Regions from separate parts of the Homo sapiens genome. Here region 1 is linked to region 2. The links come from fine-mapping of genetic effects on gene expression. A gene starts in region 2. The other region holds a variant in brackets. All regions are shown on one strand. Distances are between the middles of the regions.

Region 1 (2,908 bases), 100 kb before region 2:
CTGGGATTACAGGCGTGAGCCACCACGCCCAACTTTTTTGTATTTTTTATAGAGACAGGGTTTTGCCATATTGCCCAAGCTGGTCTTGCACTCCTGGGCTCAAGCAATCCACCAACCTAGGCCTCCGAAAGTGCTGGGACTACAGACATGAGCCACCGCCCCCAGCCAGTATATTATTTTGCCCAGTAAGAAAACACTTGGAAATCTGAGATAGGAGTGGTAGATGAAGACAAGGCCCAAGAAGCACTTGGGTCCCCTTGTTATTGAACCTAGAGACCAGGAATCACAAGACAACTACCTTTTTGAGCACCAAAGGCAGTGAGGTATTTCCTGATGACCCTTCGATATTCTTAGCACTTTCTCCCAGTCCATCCTGGTTCATGATCATGGACACAAAGAGATCATACTTCAACAGCTGCCTCAGCAAACCTAGGAAACAAAGGGATTGGGAAGTAAGGCAAGAGGAACACAGGCACCAGAGTACTCCCAAGATAGCCCCTCAGACATCCCCAGAGAAACTTCTTCATCCCTCTACAAATATGAAGAATGGTTAGAATCCTTAAGCACCAATTTGCTTTTTGCACCCGACTCTCTTCCACACAGATCTAGTGAGAGCCCACTAAGTGCTAGGCCTAAGGGTCTAGGGATTCAAGAGTAAGCAAGATAAACATAGCCCGACTGCCTCACTCAACTATAAGTTTCATGAGGGCAGGAATAATGTGAGTTTTTTCAACATAACATCATCCATCACCTGGCACAGTTCCTGACACATAGCAGGAACTCAAAAAATATTTTTTGACTAACAAAGGGAGCATACACTCCTGTAGGAGAAACAAACACAAAAACAAGTAAGACAAGACCAGGCGTGGTGGCTCACACCTGTAATCCCAGCACTTTGGGAGGCCAAGGTGGGTGTATCACTTGAGGTCAGGAGTTCAAGACCAGCCTGGCCAACATGGTGAAACCCCCTCTCTAGTAAAAAAATACAAAAAGTAGCCTGGCATGGAGGCATGTGCCTGTAGTCCCAACTACTCAGGAGGTTGAGGCAGGAGAATCGCTTGAACCCAGCAGACACAGGTTGCAGTGAACTGAGATGGCGTCACTGTACTCCACCCTGGGTGACAGAGTGAAACTCCATCTCAAAAAAAAAAAACCAAGTCAGACAAATGACCCTTATAATTGTGATAAATGATGTAAATGAGAAATACCCAAATACATGAAAATGTATATGAGGATTTAACCCAGTGTGGGGGATCAGTAAAGCCTTCCATCAGCAAGTACCATTTAAGCTGAATCTGAAAAATAAGTAC[G/A]TAAAAGTAGGTGAAGTGGGGAGAAGTATTCCAGATACAGAGAACAACATTCTAGAAAGTGAAAGAAAGCCAGAATGGCTGGGGGAAAAAAAAGTCCAGAAATTACATTTGAGAAGTAGTCACAAAAGACCACATAAGCTATGTTAAGGATTCTGGTACTTATGCTGGGATTCATGGTAAGTCACCAAAGTGTTCCAAATAATACATACTTTAACAAACAAGTAAAGAAATGCATGTCAGAATATTAAATATTAAAATTAAATAATGTGGAAAAAAGCCCAGAGGACCGCAGGAAATCAAATGAATCATCTAATCTAGCCTGGGGGCCCAGGGAAGGCTTCTATAAGAAGATATTTGAACCAAATCTTGAAGGATGAGAAGTTGGATGTGAGCCAACTTCTGGGCAGAGGAATATATAAAGGCAGGAGAGTATGGTGTGTTCCTGGAGATGGATTTGGTTCAGTAAGGCTGAGTTAGGGTGGGGACAGATAGAGAAGTGAGAGATGAGGCTTGAGAGGTTAATAAGGATTAGACCATAAACAGCTTATGAGCATAGTGGGACCCCATCTCTACAAAAAAAAAAAAAAAAAAAAATTAAAATGCTGGCAAGGTGGCGTGCACCTGTAATACCAGCTACTTGGGAGATCAAGGTGAGAGGATCACTTGAGGCCAGGAGTTCGAGGCTGCAGTGAGCTATGAACATGCTACTGTACTTCAGCCTGGGCAATAGAACAGGTCCCATCTTTAAAAATAAGTAAATTAAATAAAATAAGAACTTATGAGGATCTTGGGTTGTAAAGTAAGTGAATAAGATGACATAAGACAGAATATAAGACCCTTGGTGCTTCAAGGGTCCAAAGGATGTGACTACATCCCTGGCTGAGGGGAGAGGGTGGGAAGGAAAGGCTCCAGAGAAGAGGTGACCTTTAAGTGTTGTCTGAAAGAAGGTTAGCACTCCCGTTGACCAGGATAAAAGAGGCCCTCGGGTCTGACAAACATGCATAGGGTTAATTTTTTTTATTATTTAAAAAAAAAAAAAAAGAGGCTGGCCGCGGTGGCTCACGCCTGTAATCCCAACACTTTGGGAGGCCGAGGCAGGCAGATCACGAGGTCAAGAGATTGACACCATCCTGGCCAACACGGTGAAACCCCGTCTCTACTAAAAATACAAAAATTAGTCGGGCATGGTAGCACGCGCCTGTAGTCCCAGCTACTCGGGAGGCTGTGGCAGGAGAATCACTTGAACCCGGGAGGCAGAGGTTGCAGTGAGCTGAGATCGTGCGACTGCACTCCAGCATGGTGAAAGAGCGAGACTCCATCTCAAAAAAAAAAAAAAAAAAAAGGGGTAGCATTTAAAAACGGGAATTCTGGCTGGGTGTGGTGGTTCATGCCTGTAATCCCAGCACTTCGGAAGTCCAAGGCACGTGGATCTCTTGAGCCCAGCAGTTCAAGACCAGCCTGGGCAATATAATGAGACCCAGACTCTACAAAAAAAAATTTTTTAATTAGCCAGGCACGGGCTGGGCACGGTGACTCATACCTGTAATCCCAGCACTTTGGGAGGCCAAGGCAGGCGAATCACGAGGTCAGGAGATGGA
Region 2 (2,890 bases):
AATACCTATGGTCATGGCCATTTATCAGGGACCAAAAGATGTCAAACTACCAGTGTCCAAAAAAAACTTAGGGCACACTAGAGTAAGATCTGCATATAAGAGCCTAGGGTAGCTCTGCGAAGTTCAAAGGAAGAAAAGAATTTCAGAATTATCTGGGAGGAGAAGGGCAGGCCATCAAACAGCAAAGTCCATCCAGCAGAGATAGGCAGGGAAGGTCTTTCTTCCACACACCGAATGGCACTACATGCTGAAGTCACTTACCACTTGCTTCAAGGTTCTCTTCTTGTTCTTCCTCTGCTTCTTCATCGCCCTCGGTTTTGTAATATGACTCCCACCCTGACATGTTGGCTACTGCTCACTAGGCGAAAGACGTTAACGTCAGTAACAGGCAAATTTAAATCGAAAAAATACCGACCTCTAGGTTCTTGTGAGATCTGTTCTAAAAGCTTGGTTAGTAGTGAGGAATGTGGACGGTAAATCCTGCTGCCTCGAAAGCTCGGCAGTCGGACTGCATGTAAATGCGCATGGGGGCCATCCCAGTAGCTGCCTCATCTCAGCTATCCCTCACGTTTCAGGGCCGGCGGCGGCCCGCGGAAGCCAGATCCCGGAGGTCCCGCCCCCGACGCCATTTAGACGGTGAGGGATTCCCGCTCCAGGATTCTATGCTGACTAACGGACCCCCTCGTCCTCAATACCGCCCAAAAACCTCCCCAAATTCCTCAATCACGCCCAATGAGATCTCAAACGCAGACAGGCCTCAAGCGCAGGCGGGCCGCAAGCGCAGGCGGGCCTCAAACGCAGGCGGGCCTCAAACGCGAGGTGCCGCCTCCTTCCCGAGGAAGGAGCGTGGTCTCGAGTCTGTCGCTGCTCCTCGGATTCGCACACTTAAGGCTAACGCTAACCCTCTAGCAAGGCTATGGGGGCGCGCGAGACCGACCGAGCGAAGCGGGACGAGGCCAGGCCTAGCTGGCGAACAACACAAATGGATAACGGCCCGCTTACCTTTGGCGCAGGGAAGCGACCAACTTGGACAGAAGACGACAATCCACGCATGCGCGGGCCCTGTACTCGGTCCCAATCAACGCCCTCTACGTCATCACGCATGTGCGCACTATATCGCGTCAGGCTGGCACGCACACTCCCCAACCAGCTTCTACCTATGTCCCTGACGAAAGCCAACCCATCAGCGAGAGCCCCGCCCCCTTCGGCAAAGCCCCGCCCCTTCCTACGTCAGGACTGTAAGCACATGCGCAAAAGTGCATCCCTGCCCCCGCCCCCTCTTCCGTGTGGGCCCTCCCTGTCCCCTCTCTGTCACCTCACAGTAGTCGTTGCCGGTAGCGGGTGTGGGGGCGCGAGCAGCGCAGGGCGGCCTCTCCCCCACCCCTCAGCCCGGGCCCGGGCTCGGTCCCCCCCTCTCCCTCCGCTTCGCACTCCCGTCGGGTACGGGAAGGTCCAAGCCGCTGCCGGGTGCCCGAGGGCCGTCGTGGCCGCCGTCGCCACGGGTCCCAATGGAGCCGCCGAATCTCTATCCGGTGAAGCTCTACGTGTACGACCTGTCCAAAGGCCTGGCCCGGCGGCTCAGCCCCATCATGCTGGGTGAGGGGGAAGGGGCCAGGTGGGCAGGAGGGCGGGAGCCAGGCCAGAGGGTGGCGGCTGGCCGAGGTGGGGAGACTTGGGCCACGACTCACGGGGAGACACATGGCCAGGAGGATGGAAGAAAAGCCGAGTGGAGAAGAGAGTGGTCTGAAGTTTGGGCCATCTGAGCCCCGCTTTAGCCTCGCAGATACCATCCTCACGTTTGAATTCAAGGGGAAGGGATGGAGGAGTCATGCCTCCACCTTGCAGGGGGCTTGGGCAGAAACCGAGCCCTCGAGAGCCCCTTCGACGAGGGTGTGGGGTAAACCAGCGCTGGATCCCGGCGGGTTCTCTGCCTCGCTCGGGTAGCCCAGTGCACTCCTGCCTCCTTGGCGCGGTGTAGGAAAGGTGAGGATGCCTGCCGCGCGGTGCCCCTCGTGGTGACAGAGACACTGCGGAGGTCGGGTGGCTCTCGGAGAACCTTGTCTCAGTGCCAAAAGGAAGCTCCCTTTGCAGTCCCAGGGATAGGTGGGATGGGGGAGATAGAGCTGCCTAGGGACCCAGCCATCGCCCCCAGGTAGGTCAAGTCAGGATAAGAGGAGCCCCGAACTCCAGAATTCACCAAGCAGTCTTCTCCCCACAGTTTCTAAGTTAATTGCTTTTGCTCAAATGGCAAGAAAGCAGTTTTGGGGGAAGTTTGGATGAGGCTGTGTGAATAAGGATTAGTAAAGAAAGTATTTCGGTTGTGCTCCATTAAACTACTTAACTGGCAGGAGAAAAACCAGCCCTCATTCAGTGACGATCACACCTTATTTCAACTTAAATACAGGAATGTCTTGTGTAACACAGGAATTGTCAGGTTTGTAATTTCGGGTAACAATGAGCAGGAAAGAATTCCAATTATTGAAAATTGAAGCTTTGACAGCATCCATTTGAATGGCTAGTTTTTCCTGGCTTCTGTGGAGACACTGGCGAATGATTTAGTTCATCTCTGTGAGACGAGGGGGCAGAGATCAAGTAAGGGAGGCTACTTTTGAGGGCATCCTTCAATGTCCTTGAGTTTCTAATATGTCGTAGTGAATTGAACTTAATCTCACAACCGTGGGTCCATGAGTTGTTTCTATATTTGGCTTCACATCAAAATCATCTAGGGTGCTTGTTAAAAATGCAGATACCCTCATTTCCAACATATATTGTAAATGAGATTAGAAAAAACAAGGTTAGAATAGCTCTTTAAATATGCAAATCAAAGGATATATATGTGCTTGCTTAGGCAAATAATTATCCGTAAGGATACACAAGAAATTGATAACAG

The links. PIP is the estimated chance that this variant, and not a neighbour inherited with it, causes the effect.
Region 1: its variant is fine-mapped to the expression of DESI1 in whole blood (INTERVAL, PIP above 0.99). The same link has a PIP of 0.9 or more in CD4 T cells and CD8 T cells.

What each region holds. Positions count from the first base shown.
Region 1 is chr22:41,721,464-41,724,371 of GRCh38, reverse strand. MEI1 (meiotic double-stranded break formation protein 1) reads right to left here. Exons shown (of 31, transcript NM_152513.4): 7 at 299-429. It also overlaps the pseudogene RNU6ATAC22P. Among named protein-coding and RNA genes, the nearest start is that of MEI1, 23 kb to the right of the region's middle. The variant G/A (reference allele first, on the strand shown) is at 1,311.
Region 2 is chr22:41,619,458-41,622,347 of GRCh38, reverse strand. DESI1 (desumoylating isopeptidase 1) reads left to right here and starts at 1,305. Exons shown (of 6, transcript NM_015704.3): 1 at 1,305-1,596. The coding sequence starts at 1,509. It overlaps XRCC6 (X-ray repair cross complementing 6), which reads right to left and starts at 1,053. Exons shown (of 13, transcript NM_001469.5): 1 at 1,003-1,053; 2 at 262-358. The coding sequence starts at 343. RefSeq lists a silencer at 1,285-1,554 and an enhancer at 1,286-1,887.